Homo sapiens: one gene and its partners. The protein of the gene in region 2 interacts with the protein of the main gene of each other region in a pairwise test. Each region holds a gene or a part of one and is shown on either strand. Other genes may lie near its edges.

Region 1 (3,009 bases), on a different chromosome or scaffold from region 2:
GGGAGGGAAGGTGGGAGGGAGGGTTAAGAAAGAAGTAAACACAGGACATGGTATTCCTGGCCAATTCTGATCACCAGTCACTCTGGAAGGCAAACAAGTGAACTGCCAGTAAACCCATTTGCTCAGCCCAGCCTTCTAAGAAAAAAACAGTATAAAGTCCAGAAAGGAGTAACTTCTTTCAAAGGTTAGTTATTCAGAGTGTTAAGTTACTGCTGAAAGTGTAAGAGGGGCAGGGACCTCAGAAACAGAGTTGGCAATAAACGAAGATGTTGGCAACTGCAACATTGCCTATTATTAGATCCATGTCATTCAAAAGGTAGCTTAGAACACAATGATACTGGCAATGTGTCCTTCTAAATAAGCGGGATCTTTTTCTATTGCTTCAGTATTTCCCCAGTAATAGAAGAGGGACATACATACAACCTGCTTCCTGTCACCTCACCTTGTGATGAGTGAAGTTGGCCTGTCGAAGGCCCAAGATACAGACTGGGATGTTCACCCTCGAGGAAAAAAAAAAAAAAGGGCTCAGGAATGTCATGGCACCTGCTATCTAGTCTGTGTGTGCCTTATGAGGAAACAGGATTAAACTAATTTTATAAAGTTCCAGGGCTCAGATCCATGGGTAGAAGCTATAAAAATGCCATAAAGCATGCTACAATCAGATATGACTCCTCACTCAAAGTTAGCAAGCATCCTCCTTCATTAAAATGAAAACCCAGGAATTCTGCATCCAGGAATTAATCCAGCAAAAAATACTGGGTACTTCCTAAATGCTCTTCAAGAGATAATTGGTTACACAAATTATGTGATATCTAAGAGACAGCAGAGCAGGGACATGGAAACTTAACACAGACAACCTTCAAGTTGCACATTTTAATTTACAATTTTTACCAATAAAAAGGATTAGTTTACAAAAAGGGAAGTCCTTTATACAAAATAAGGATTTTTTTTTTCCATTTGTAAAGAGAATCCACTGTCATGTTTTGCCTTGTCAAGTCAAAACTCAAATAGCTTGTTTTGGTAAAATTATTCCAGAAACATAATCCAGACAAAATCAATAACGTCATCAGCTTCCTAACCATGTTTAAGAGGAATAACTTCATGAACATTTTGCCCTGAACTGAAGAGTTCTAAATACTTGTAAACCTTTAGGAAAAAATGACTGCTCGCAGGCAGCTGACTGGTAAGAGGGTACACCAGAGACTCCGGGTCACTCACTGTCAGAATATTCTTATACATACAATGAGTCTCCACGCCTGTACAATGAGTGTACGTGCAACATAATTGGAGTAATGGCCTCTAAAATTTTACAAGTAAACTTTATTGTGGCCACAGATGAACAACAAAACATGACAGTTAAGGTTCAGACTCTCCCCACCTATTTTATCATATAAATTAAATATGGAGAGGTACACACAAACTCTATTCAAAATGAGAAGTTGTTTGCCAACTCTCATTTCCTAGGATAACACACATCACACTGTTTAAGAGTGGGGGAAAGAATAGTCATACTGTTAGAGCACAATGTTTCCTGAAAAGAAACTGATCAAAACGTTTGAAGCCTTTTTAGTTGCCTCAAAGTGTGACAGCCACTCAATACTGCTCCTAACAGTCTGCTTTCAGATAACGTCATAAAATAAAATAACTGTGTGAAAAGCCATGGCCTTCAAAAAACTTTATTTGGTTATGAGCCAAGCTCTGATAGGAAAAGCCCACCTACGAAAAAAAGGTGTGGGTATTTAAGCTGGTCTGATTCACAGAGCTTGTACATTCATGACTCAAAATAACACACCCTCAAACCCAAATGATTCTAAAGCCATTTCAACCTTAAATCATGTTATTCCCTTAGATGTGCTTACATTAGCTTTAAAAAATGATCTACGTGCAGAGAGGAGCTGCGCCTTCCTCACAATTAATTGAAACATGACCAAAAAACGGGGGATAGGCAAAAAAGTGACATTTAAATAGCGTATGAGGGTCTCTCCTCCTTTACTCAATGAACACATATCCAGAATGAGATTGAAATGGAATCAATGCCCAGGAGCCTCTCAAAGAGAGCATCTCCCTGTAGCCAACATGATCTGGATCCTCCTAACACAAAGCAACCCAACTACTCCAGCTACACAAAGCCAGTAGGCCTACATATGAAACGCAAAGGGGTTGCATCCCCCATGGTTTAAACCTAACCCATGTTAGCTGCAACTCCACTACAGTCTTGATCACTTAGCTCAGGAAACAAACACCCAGCAACAACCCTCGTATCTCATTAATACCAATCTGTGGCCCTCACTGACTCAGTGGTACTTTTTTATAAAAATATCTGAAGAAGTGGCAAACGGTTACAACGGATGTCAGGTCGAAGCAATTCCAAAAGCTGAGAAAACGCTTCATCCGCTGCTTGTCTTCTCCCCCTATTGCTACAGTTCTGCCACCAAAGGGGGAAAATTACGTGAATATGATTGTTGTGACCAAGCCTTGGCAAAAGTCAATAAATAACAGAACCTGTCAAGGGCAGAGCAATTTTATGGGCAACCTCTTCTAGTTGCAAATGTGGGGGTTGGGAAAAGTGGGAGAGAGGCATGTGTGCAAGAAAGAGATAAGGGTCCTTTTGGGAAGGGTTTGGTGACCCAGCCCCAGCTCAATGCCAGCAGACTAGGACCCGCTAAAACCCATTATTCAGACGGAAAGGGGAGAAGAGAAGACACCAAAAAATGTAGTCAGTTTTGCAATTTGCACAGTTGGTATTTGTTCTTCACAGCAGTAAGGACTTGAATGAGAATCGTGAAACTTGTGGAACACTTATATTTTTCTTCGGGATTTAAGAAACTTTGTCTCGTACTGAAAGACTACATTCAGTGTGGGTCAGGTCCAACAGTGTTAGCCAGAACGCAGTTGTTAAGTGCACCCAGCACTGGGAGGAAATGTGGCTTGAGAGGAGCGGCTGCCCGAGGCCGCCCCTTCACTGGTCTCCAAGTCGAAAGCCCTGGCCCCAGTTGTGTCTCCCGCCTC
Region 2 (5,842 bases):
GCTCTGGGCTCTGCTGTGAGTCCGATGGTGGCAGGGGGAGCAGATGAACTTGGGGCAGCAAGGATGGTCAAAAGAGGCCAGTTCCTGCTGGCATAGCACTCTCTTCTCTGTGCCTGACAAGCCATACTCACTTCAACTGTGAGGGCGTTTTCTCTTGCCTGTTTGTCACCTACATTTTTTGAAACTTGTCTAGTGGCCTTCCTTGAGGAGGGAGCTGCCGTCCCTGGCTGCATTGAGGGGTCTGCTTGGTGGCCTGGCCTCCTGGGATGGCAGGCTGTCCCCAGACTGACTCCACCTATGAGGCAGAGTGAGTGGAGGGAGACACAGTTTCCCACAAACTCTGGGAAACCTCTGGCAAGTCTCTGACCTCAGCCTCTTCATGTGTAAAATGGGATCTGTGTCTTACAATTCCTTCCAGTTCTAAATGGGATGTAGAGTATTGTGCTTATCTCAAACTGGGGCCTTTGGGCTACAGCTGGCCCTTTGACATGTATTGTTTGGTTTGCACATTTAAAAAAATGGAATGAGTTGCTGATTTCACATAAAATGGATATTTTACCTTCTTTTGAAAAGTGGGAAGCTCTGGCTCCCACACAATACTTGCTGCTGAGACACGGGTGTCTGCCCATGCCTTTGAGGCTGTCTGGCCATTTTGTTTGTGGAAATGCTGACCTGGAAGATATTTCAGTAAAAGCACAGGTTCCGGAGCCACCCAGACCTGGAGCCAATGTATTGACCTCTCTAAGATTCAGTTTCCTTACCTCTAAATGCTACTTGTTACATGCTGTCCCCCAGGGTGCTGTAGGAGGATCACATATACTTATCCAGGTAAGGTGTTTAGCACTGTGCCTGGCTGTTTCTTATAATCGTTGTCATTATTATAATGCATGTAACAAGTTGTCCCAAATTGGAATGGGATTTGAAGTCTGGCAGCACATGAAGGTAGATGACCAGATTCCCATTCCGACAGTGGGATCTGAGACATGGTTTAATGTGCATGGGAGGGTTGTTTGTTGGGAAGGAGTTTTATGGCAGAAGGTGGCTGTCCCAGCAGAGCTTATCTCTTGTGGGGGTCTAGGTAAAAATGACAGTCATCAGGGGTCTGGACAAGGAGGTTGAGCAGGAGAGCATGAGGGGTCATGTTCTTGAGTCACCAGAGGCTCTGCCTGGGTGGGGCCTAGAGCCACAGCAATGTAGGCATTGTGGCAGAGGCCTCAATAGTGGCCACTGGCGATGGGGCTGGGACATCTGGCCACTCACACTTAAAAGCACAGTTGCCTTCCACGTCCCCTGCTCTGCTTCTTCCACAGAAACACAAAGCCCTCAGAGTACCCCTTCGCAGGCCCCTGACTTCTGCATCCCTCATACACCAAAATTCAGATATACTCTAGGATTCTTGGGACACACAGGCTGCCATGAGCCTTGTCCAGAAGCCAGATCCAAGACCAAGGGCTTGCTTTGTAGCAGAGAGGATGTGGATTAGACAGAGGAAAGCATTTTCTCACAGTGAGGTAGTTGAACATTGAAATACCTTTCCGTGGGTGATGGCACAAGCCAAATGCCCTCTTTGTGCCTCTCTTCCCATTGACTACTAAAGTGAGGGCTGAATCATATGGAAAAAGAGCCCAGAGCTTCTCAGATGGCAGATCCTGTTAAACCCCAACTCTCATTCACTCTCACTTTTTTATTTCCTTTTTTTTTTTTTTTTTGAGAGAGAGACAGGGTCTCACTCTGTTGCCCAGGCTGGAGTGCAGTGGTGTGATCATGACTCACTGTAGCCTTGAACTCGTAGGCTCAAAGATCCTCTCATCTCAGCCTCCCAAGTAGCTGGGACTACAGGCATGTGCCACTATGCCTGGCTAATTAAATATATATGTATATATTTGTAGACACAGGGTTTTGCTATGTTGCCCAGGTTGGTCTTAAACTCCTGGTCTCAAGTGATCTTCCTGCCTTGGCCTCCCAAAGTGCTGGGATTATAGGTGTGAGCCACCGTGCCCAGCCATTCTCACTTTTTTCATTTAAAAAATCTGTCCCAGTGTCATTTTGCATCACTAGGAGGGGCTTCTTGACTGGGTTAGTTTTCCTAGGAAAGTTTGGCTAGGAGTAGGGTGCTGACAGACACAAGCAGATGGACTTTCTGGGTTCTGCTGCTATACCTGGCATTGAATAGCGTCTCCACGGAGGACTAAACCAGGGGGGACTGGCTTGAGACTGAGGTTTCACTGAAAGCAAGAGCTTCTGCTAGTGAGTTTTCTTTAGCTTCAGCACAGGCTGCTGGAGCTGGAGCAGGTCTGAAGTAGCTCCTCTGGCAGATGTTCAAGACTAGAGTCTCCCCAGTTTGGAAGGATGAGCATCAACCAGCCCCTGTGTGCTGCGTCTCCAGGAGCGAGCCCTTGCTGATTTCTGCTTATAATGCTTTGGGCAGGGGGTTAGGGGGTGCTGCTGTCTTCCCCTTATCAGGGTGGCTGAGATGGGGCTGGCCTATCTGGAGTGGGTGCTGGGAAACTCTAGGATCTCCCTGGTTGTGCCTTTGCATGGAAATGTCATTGCATCTGATGGGGAATGAGGGACTTTAAAGAGAAAACATCTTAGATGACCAGGTAATTGGGAGGACCTTTTGGAAATTCTTGCCCGCTTTGCAGGAATTTGAGGTGCTCATTTGGTTCCAAGTCACCTTGATCTCCCTGATGATGTTTGGAACGAATCACACTACCTTTTAAATCTCTGGGCTCAAAGCAGGCAACTTGTCCACTGTTGTAGGTGGATGCAGTTCTCCAGAGGTTCCTTTGGCTTTAATCAGTGCTCCTTTAAGACAATCCTTGAGACACCTCTGGAAGCAAGGAGATCACCACGAGCTTCCTGGACCAGTATGGTCCCTTTGGCTTGGTGCCTAAACCAGACGTACCCCAACTCCTGCCCCCATCCCAGCATAAGCTCTTGGCAATAAATGCCAGACTTCCCCTGCCCTAGCCTCCACCCAGCCTGCATTCACTCCTTTTCCTGGCTTTAGCCCAGCTCTTCCCCTCAATTGTGACATATCTAATGTAGCTCCTGTCCCAGGCTGTTCCCTCCTCACCCCCAGGCCTACCTGAGGTTCATGTCCCCCTTCATGGCCAGACTGAAGACATTGGACAGGTTCCCTCCAGGTGAGCAGCCACAGACCAAGATGGCCAGTGCCTCAATGTTCTTCAGCCGGAAGACCTTGCCCAGCACAAAGGCCGTGAGGGGCATGATGCCATACTGTGCCACCAGGGCGATGGCCAGCCCTTTAGGCTTCCATAAGTGAGCCTTGATCTTGCTGAACTCCATGGTGCAGCCCAGCGAGAGCATGATGAAGAACAACATGAACACCAGGATGACGCTCAGTGCCAGGTCTGTGGGGCGCTTGCCAAAGTTGGGTGGCAGGGTGAAGTTGAATGGGGCAGACGCGTTGTGGGCCTCCATCCTCCTGTGAGGCAGTGGAAGACCACTCCTTGTTCTCCGGCTGACTCCGTTTCTTGTGCAGTTCTTGCTGGATGCCTTCTTTAATCACCTCTCAGGACAGAGAGTTTCTGGACAAAAGCTCTGGGCAAATAGAAGGGTTATGCAACTATCTGAGCTATTTCTCTGGCTGTCGCCCCAAAGAGGAACAGCCCAGAACCTTATCTGCCTGCCCTAGCTCTCCCAAGCTCCCTGACCTCTGCTGGATTCCTGGGTGCTACTTGTACTCCTCCCTTGTCACTTTGCTGCTTCTGGGCTTATTTCTCCCCTTTGCCCTCCACTGAGTGTGCCTCATGGGCATTCATTCAGTTACTGGGGACCTGCCCAGGGCCCACCTGAATCTAGGTCCAGCCCATCTCCTTCCCTGCAGCTCCTTTTCCCAGCTCCGCTCTTGATTCCTTAGTTTCTTGGTTGGGGGAAGGTGCCCTCCCCATGTCCAGTGGGTTATCATTTGTCCCCAGAACCCATGAGAGTGAAAGGAGCTGGGTGTTGCCTTTGGTTCCTAGATACAGGTAGCATAGTCCAAGGGGGTGTGGGACAGGCAATGTCACTGGCCTCCAGGAGGGGATGTGTCCATGACCCTTTTCCTGGGAGCTGAGAGGATGCCAGTATCCTCCCTGCCTGTTCTGGGGAAATGTTTGTTTTATCCCCAAACTGGGACTGTATGAGTCCCAGGGAGGAATACTGGTGGTGGCTGCTCCACACTACCTGGAATGCTTACCATCAGAGGGAATAACCAGCTGGGATGGTGGGTGGGCTCTCAGGAAGCTTGGAGGCTCTTTCCCCGAAAAGCAACCTGAGAGAACCCTGGCTGTGGAGATTGCTTTGTGCCCGAGGAGGCCCATTGCTTGCAAAACTTGCTGAGAAGGAAGCAGGAATGCAGTCTTTTCTTCCTGACTTCCTGATTGCTTTACTTTTGCACTGGGCCTGTGTGTTTCAGGCTGGGAGCCAGGCTTGGGGCGTGGAGCAGAAGCAGAGAGAGGTGGGCATGCCAGGGGCGGGGCCACCTAGTGTGTGAGGTTATCCTAGGCCTTGCTCTTTCCATCTATCCCCACTGCAGAGGTGGGACAAGGGAGGAGGGGTCTCCTTCAGAAACACAATTGCTTCTTGGCTTGGTTGGAACCTAGGAGGCCTGGGTGGGGTCTGAAACAGGTGATTAGGCTTTGTATGTAGGACTCCAGAGGGCAGAATAGGGACCAGGGTGTGAACCACTGTTGGGTGGAGGTGGGGACAGATTTTGGCTTGGTGCAAGGAACCACCTGAAAATGAGAGCTCTCCAAGAATGGCCTTGAGGCCTCTGGAATCCTGCTTGGATAAGGGTTGGATGGCAGGATCCATACATATTGCATCATATCCATGAAAAGGCTGCTCCCTGGGCTTGCGCGGTGGGCAGCCTGCGGGGCCGTATACTGTGGCCCTGGGTGACATGAACTTGAAGCCTCTTTTCCTTTGAGAGTCTCTGCTAATGATTTCCTGGTGCTTGAGTTGGGCTGGTATCAAAGGGAGGGCAGGCAGAGGACTGGGCACTGGATGTGATGCCTGGACTGAGCGTTCCCACAGGGTAGGGTTGAGTCTCAGAGGAGGCTGCTTCCTCTCCCTGGGGCTAATCAGAAGGGAACAGAGTTGCTAGGGGAGAATTATTGATCACTAACTGAGTACCAGGCACCATGGGAGGCAAAAAAAATAAAAATAAATAAATAAAAAAAACTATATAATTCATGTTCCTGTTCTCAGGGACCTGATGGTCTGTACAAGACCACAGATGGCCAGATGGTACACAATGCAATATGGAAGCACGTGAGGGTGGAGGCCATGCAGGGCTGCCAGGTACACCTGTTCAGGTTGGGCACTACACAATGCTAGGGACGCCACTCTACAGATGTCTTGTGCAACCGTACATGAGGCCTTGAAGTCAAAGGGAGACGTTAGGTTTTTACACATTTGCCTGATGCCAAAGGGTGAGGAGGAATTGACCAATATCTGTTAAAGATCAGGGTCTGGGCATGTGTCTATTGTGCACATCCAAAGAGAAGAAGAGTTCCTATGAACACATTTGTAACCTGGATTCTAAACCACGTAGTCTCTATCAACTCTTCCTCCTCACCTCTTCTCAGGAACCCAAAATCCTTCCACCTCCTACTGTGAGTTTTTCCCTTTGAGAAAACAGTTTCTTGCCCTGGCTGCCCCTCCTCCCACTCCTTCCCATTCCCTCTGTTCCTAGCAATGTGACTTTGCAGAGAATGGAAAAATCTCTTCCAGGAACCTGACACCCTCCATTCTTTTCCCCATATCCCCTCAGAATCTACTCTAATTTAATACAATTTTGGAAACAGGAAGATCTTTTTGTGTTATGTTAATG
Region 3 (2,490 bases), on a different chromosome or scaffold from region 2:
CACCCCAGAGGGCCCCCAGTGCATGACTGGGAACCAGCATTTGTTATTTTCTTGGGTGGGAAAGCAGGATCAGACCCTGTCACCTAGGGTTTGGGCCCCTGGGCTGTTGCTGCCCAGAGAAAGAGCCCACAGGAGAGGCCATGGGGCCTCACCAGGCAGCCACTGAGACAGCGCTGGGAGGGCTATGCTTGCTAGTGACTCACTTCGGTGGGGGTGGGTGAGGAGGAGGGCAGAGCCTCACCTGCAGGGCCAGGGCTGCCCTCTCTGGCCTCGTCCCAGGCAGAGCCCACTGTTTGCACTGGGCTCAGGGAGACGGATGGCCTGCCACACCTGCCCTTTCTCTTCCGTTCCTGCCCTACCTGATGGCTCAGGAGATGAGCCAGGCCTGGGACCGGCAGCCAGGGGCCACAGCCTGCATGGTGAGCCCGCTGCAGAATGTCACCGGGGGCTCTGTCCTAGAGAGAGGGTGTGCTGGGGAGGGGTGGGGGTGGAGAGACACGAGCCCGGACTTGTCTCTCCCACCTCTTCCCCCGGATCAGACCAAGGAAGAACTGGGTTAGACCCCTCCTGGCCCGGAAGCAGGACTGTCCCAGCCCCACAGCCCTACTCAAAAGGACCATTCCTTCCCACCATGTCCGGAGGAGCAGTTCTGTCCCTGGGAACAAATGCCATGAGCCTGAATGCAATCCATTAAACAAATAGGGTTTATGCGGCAGGAGAGAGCTGTTGAACCCTGCCTGGCAGCCAATGAATGAGCTCATTAGGAGACAGGTGTGTGGGGAGAGGAGCTGGCCTCCTAGCTCGGAGCTCTGAGCTCTGAGGATGTCCAGAGCCACACTTGGACCAGGTGCTCTTCTCGCAGCAGGGGGCAGACCTCTGAGTCCTGGCTGGAGAGGGGTGCCCCTCGCCAAGCTCCCCAGACTCGGTCATGTAGGTCTGACCCTCCCACAGAGTAGCCGTGAGGGGGCCCCTGCCAGCCTCCTGGGGTGCACCCTTGGCTTGCGGATCGTGGTGGGAAGGCAGGGGGCAGGCATGTGCCCAGGCCTGGCCGTGGGCATCAGAAGCTCAGTGTCCAGGCCCCTGCTGTTGGCCTCTGGCTCTAGGCAGTGCCCTCCCCTTCAGTGAGGCTCTGGGGAGCAGGAGGCCTTGAGAGCCTCAGGCTGGTCTCGGCACCTCAGAATGAGGCATCTGCTCAGAGACTCTGGGCTACCATCTTCCCCACCTTGGCACTTCGAGGTTCTGCCGGGGGTGGGCAGCCTCAGGCCCCCAGGTAGACCTCCACCAGGCCTCCCACAGAGTGCATGCGGTAGAAGACCCCCAGAGGCAGGCCGAAGTTGACGATGGCGAACCATATCTGGTAGCCGTAGAAATCCTTTTCTAGCCCGTTCTCAAACTCCGGGTGTATGCCAAATGCAGGCATCATCCACAGCTGGGGAAGAGGATGTGCTGAGTTAGGGAAGGGCTCTCCTGTGCCCCAAGGCACTCAGTTCAGGGGAGGCAGCCCCCAAACCTGCAGCCCCTCCAGTGCCACCCCCACCTCCCGCTCAGTCTTCTTCTAACCCTTGGGCTTTCAGCGTGAGCTCTTCTTTCCCCCAGATCTTTCTCGCCCTACTGCAGAAGGCCTTAGCTATCCCCAGCCATCTCTGTGAGCTTGCCTGTGGCCAGCCTGAACTTCAGATGGGTCAGGAGACCCCAGGCTGCCGCCACGTGTGGGGAGAAGCAGGAATTCCCAGCGCGCCACCTGCTCTGTCAAGCTGGGCACCCCCACCCTGTACCCTGAGCTCGGGCTTCACTCCTCGGCTAGCTACTTTTTATTTTTATTATTTATTTATTTTTTTGAGACAGGTCTCACTCTGTCACTCAGGCTGGAGTGCAGTGGCAGGATCACAGCTCACTGCAGCCTCAACCTCCCGGGCTCAAGTGATCCTCCCACCTCAGCCTCCCAAGTAGCTGGGACTACAGGCATGCACCATCATGCCTGGCTAATTTTTATTTTTATTATTACTATTTTTTAAGATACAGAGTCTCACTCTGTCACCCAGGCTGGAGTGCAGTGGCACGATCTCAGCTCACTGAAACCTCTGCCTCCTGGGTTTGAGCAATTCTCGTGCCTCAGCCTCCCGAGTAGCTGGAATTACAGGTGTGCACCACCATGCCTGGCTAATTTTTGTATTTTTAGTAGAGATGGGGTTTACCATGTTGCCCAGGCTGGTCTCCAACTCCTGGCCTCAAATGATCCACTCACCTCAGTCTCCCGAAGTGCTGGGCTTACAGGCGTGAGCCACCGTGCCCAGACTAATTTAAAATTTTTTTTGTAGAGACAGGGTCTCCCTGTGTTGCCCAGGTTGGTCTTAAACTCCTGGGCTCAAGGGATCCTCCTCCCTCGGCCTCCCAAAGTGCTGGGATTACAGGTGTGAGCCACTGTGCCCTGTCATTTCTGCTAGTTATGACCCCCTGCCCCCTCCTACCTTCCTGTCCAAATTCTACCCC
Region 4 (3,190 bases), on a different chromosome or scaffold from region 2:
GAGAGGGCGCAGTCTCTGAATCTTTCCACGGGGTCCATCCTAGGGCCCCTCCAGGTTCAACGGTCTCCTAACCTGTAGTCACCCACAAGAGCGTGCCCTTTCTGCCCGCCCTTCCTAGCGTTGCTCCCTGCTTGGCTGAGCACTGCGGAGTTTCACGCCTCTAAACCCCGCCTCTTCTTGCAACCTGTGTTGGCCTCATCTACCCAGCAACTGTCGACGTCACACGACCTGGGCCTCCCTGAATGGGAGATATTTACTAGGCAATCCCGCCTACTGTTCTGAGGTTTCCCCTCCAGGTGCAGCTTCAGAGCCAGGCGAGCCAGGAAGGACCAGCGGGCGAGGTGGTGAGTTGTGAGGCGCGCCCAGTCCCTCTGTTCCCGCCTGGCACTTGCTCTGGCCGCGCCCGCCCCATCTGCCACTTCGGAGAGGCCACGGCTCTGAGCTGCGGCCGCTAGTGCCCTGATGGGCCCTGTGGCTGGGGTCTTGCACATTCTTGGGGGTGGGCCTAAGGGGATAGGGGAAGTGGAAGGGGCCTCATAGGAATTAAAAAGCTTAAGGGAAAAGGTGATGCAGTTAGGGGGTAAAACATTGAGGATGATAAAAGAGGAGACATCCGCAGCTGAAAAGTGCGCTGCAAAAGGCAGTGGGCCGTTTGGTGTGCCGGAAACATAAGAAACCACAGTACAAAACACCAATTTTATTATAAATATCAAGAACCTACAGGGTGTTTATGGGCCAGCATATGCCTTCAGTTATGTTGAAAATAGCTGATCATCTTTCCGTACATTCTGAACATTTCTCAGTTTCAGAGTGCTGGCCACACCAAAGCATCAGCCCTGGCTCTAAACTCCGTTACAGTAAGGAATTACAAATCCTGTGTTTGTACTCCAGGAAGTCTGCATTATCACGAGGAGCTTGGAAAGGAGGTAACACACTCAAGGCAAATTTCAAGTAACTCATCCTGGAGGCAGCTGCCTACTCTGCAGCTGTGGTTCTCCACCACAGAGAGAAGAAAAGGGAGGGAGATGGAGTGCGCAGGTCTGAGAAGGCTTTCATTCTGGAGCATCTGCAGGAGCCTGCACCATGGCCCAGTAGCACCCCTTTTTCTCCATGAGCTGCTGGTGGGTTCCCCCCTCCCGGATAGCGCCTCCTTCCAGAAAGAGGATGTGGTCAGCCTGCTCCACCAGGCTGAGGTGCTGGGTGATGAGAAGCACTGAGCGGGAGTACCGCTCAGGGCTTTCGTACAGGAGCTGCTCCACCTGAGGAAAGACATCGGACCGTCAGAGCCGGGGACTACCCTCAGCCCAGGGAGACACCTGTGTTTCCAGGGCTGGGACTGACCTCACAGGATCACTGCTGGCTCTGCTAACAACCCCAAGGACACCAACGTTTCCCATTCTGAGTACTTCTCCGCAAACCCTTTGTTTCATTAAGGACTGTTTTACATGAAGGGTGCAAAAGTAGGATAAAAATGAGAACCCTAGGGTGAAACACGTGACAGAAGAATAAAGACTATTGAATAGTCCTCTTCTCTACCCATGGACTTGGCATTTTTATATTCGATTTTAAGGAAATATAACTTAGTAGTAAAGAGATGAGCATTCAAGTCAGGCAGACCTGAATTTGGGTCAAGGCTGCGCCACTCAAAAGCTATATGACCTCTATATGAGCAGCTTATTCAACCTCTTTTAACCTCCATTTTGTCATCTGTAGAATGATGATAAATGCCTAGCTCAGAAGGATTCCTAATGAATAAATGAGTGACAGTGCATGTAAACAGACTAGCTTAATTAATATTAATATGATTAGGATGGGCTGGGCCCGGTGGCTCATGCCTATAATCCTAGCACTTTGGGAGGTCAAGGAGGGAGGATCACTTGGGCCCAGGAGTTCAAGGCCAGCCTGGGCAACATAGCGGGACGCTGTCTGTACAAAAAATAATTTTTTTAAATAAACGATATTATGAGGATGGTCTTTTCCTTATGTTTCGCTTTAGAAATTCAGTCTATAGGACTGGGCGCAGTGGCTCACACCTATAACCCCAGCCCTTTGGGAGGCTGAGGGGGGCAGATTACCTGAGCTCAGGAATTCAAGGCCAGCCTGGGCAACATGGTGAAACCCATCTCTACTAAAAATATAAAAGTCAACCAGGCATAGTGGTGTACACCTGTAGTCCCAGCTACTCGGGAGGCTGAGGGGAGAATCGCTTGAGCCCAGCAGGTTGAAGCTGCAGTGAGCCAAGATTGTGCCACTGCGCTCCAGCCTGGGCAACTGAGTGAGACACTGTCTTAAAAAAAAAAAAGGAAAGAAAGAAAGAAATTCAGTCTGTAGTTTGTAGATAGTCTCTTTTAACTGATTCTAGGTGTCTTTGCCTCGTCTTCTATCTCTACTCCTTGGGGAGGCATCCAATGGAACTGGATTTGGGAACTGAGAACTGCAAGGACTGGTTTGTATAATTATGATGTTAGTAAAACTAACAGAAGATGTATAAAAGAAGCAAGATTGGGTGGGATATAGCCATTAAGAAGATGACTGCCTCACCTGTAACTGGCTGTTTGCATCCAGGGCACTGGTGGCATCATCCAGGATAAGTACACACGGTTTCCGGATCAATGCTCGGGCCAACGCCACTGCCTGTCGCTGACCCCCTGACAGCTGGCTCCCAGCCTCGTCTACCTCTGCAGAGCAAAGGGCCAAGATGAGAACGGTATAGCCACATGTGTGCACGCATGTACATGCACACAGACACACTCATGCATTCACGCACTCACACACACCAAGATCTGACGGTTGTAGCTGGATAGGGGAGATTCTGGGAAGATGAACAGAATCCTGAGGATGTCAGGATGAAGAAGCCATAGGAGCATGATCTTACAACTTCAAATTGATGTCCATGAGTAAGGAGGAACTGAAGGATAAAGGCAAGACTACTGGGGTTTCAGCAAAGGTAAAGATGGCTGGGTGGTGAGATGAGTGGAGAGAGTACCTGTGTCATAGCCCTGAGGGAGTCCAGAGATGAAACTATGGGCCCCAGACTTTACTGCAGCAGCTGTGATTTCCTCCATAGTTGGCTTCTGGGTCAGGCCATAGGCAATATTTTCTTGAAGACTTCTTCCAAATACCTGTGGCTCTTGTCCCACTGCAGCCACCTGAGATGAAATATGATGAAGAGTCATAGAACAAGGCACAT

The links. Proteins that work in one complex are often made in the same cells at the same time.
Region 1: the proteins of SLC10A1 (region 2) and DERL1 interact in binary tests that used the Homo sapiens proteins (3 or more experiments, as listed by UniProt).
Region 3: the proteins of SLC10A1 (region 2) and OTOP3 interact in binary tests that used the Homo sapiens proteins (3 or more experiments, as listed by UniProt).
Region 4: the proteins of SLC10A1 (region 2) and TAP1 interact in binary tests that used the Homo sapiens proteins (3 or more experiments, as listed by UniProt).

Annotation. Positions count from the first base shown.
Region 1 is NC_000008.11:123,012,488-123,015,496, forward strand, and holds the end of DERL1 (derlin-1), read right to left. Parts: coding exon 2,960-3,009; 3' UTR 683-2,959; downstream 1-682. UniProt on the Homo sapiens protein: Functional component of endoplasmic reticulum-associated degradation (ERAD) for misfolded lumenal proteins. Forms homotetramers which encircle a large channel traversing the endoplasmic reticulum (ER) membrane.
Region 2 is NC_000014.9:69,793,709-69,799,550, forward strand, and holds the start of SLC10A1 (hepatic sodium/bile acid cotransporter), read right to left. Parts: upstream 3,534-5,842; 5' UTR 3,448-3,533; coding exon 3,092-3,447; intron 1-3,091. UniProt on the Homo sapiens protein: As a major transporter of conjugated bile salts from plasma into the hepatocyte, it plays a key role in the enterohepatic circulation of bile salts necessary for the solubilization and absorption of dietary fat and fat-soluble vitamins.
Region 3 is NC_000017.11:74,948,185-74,950,674, reverse strand, and holds the end of OTOP3 (proton channel OTOP3), read right to left. Parts: intron 1,430-2,490; coding exon 1,259-1,429; 3' UTR 683-1,258; downstream 1-682. UniProt on the Homo sapiens protein: Proton-selective channel gated by extracellular protons.
Region 4 is NC_000006.12:32,844,527-32,847,716, forward strand, and holds the end of TAP1 (antigen peptide transporter 1), read right to left. Parts: intron 3,150-3,190; coding exon 2,987-3,149; intron 2,679-2,986; coding exon 2,542-2,678; intron 1,975-2,541; exon of another isoform or gene 1,260-1,974; coding exon 1,053-1,259; 3' UTR 683-1,052; downstream 1-682. UniProt on the Homo sapiens protein: ABC transporter associated with antigen processing. In complex with TAP2 mediates unidirectional translocation of peptide antigens from cytosol to endoplasmic reticulum (ER) for loading onto MHC class I (MHCI) molecules.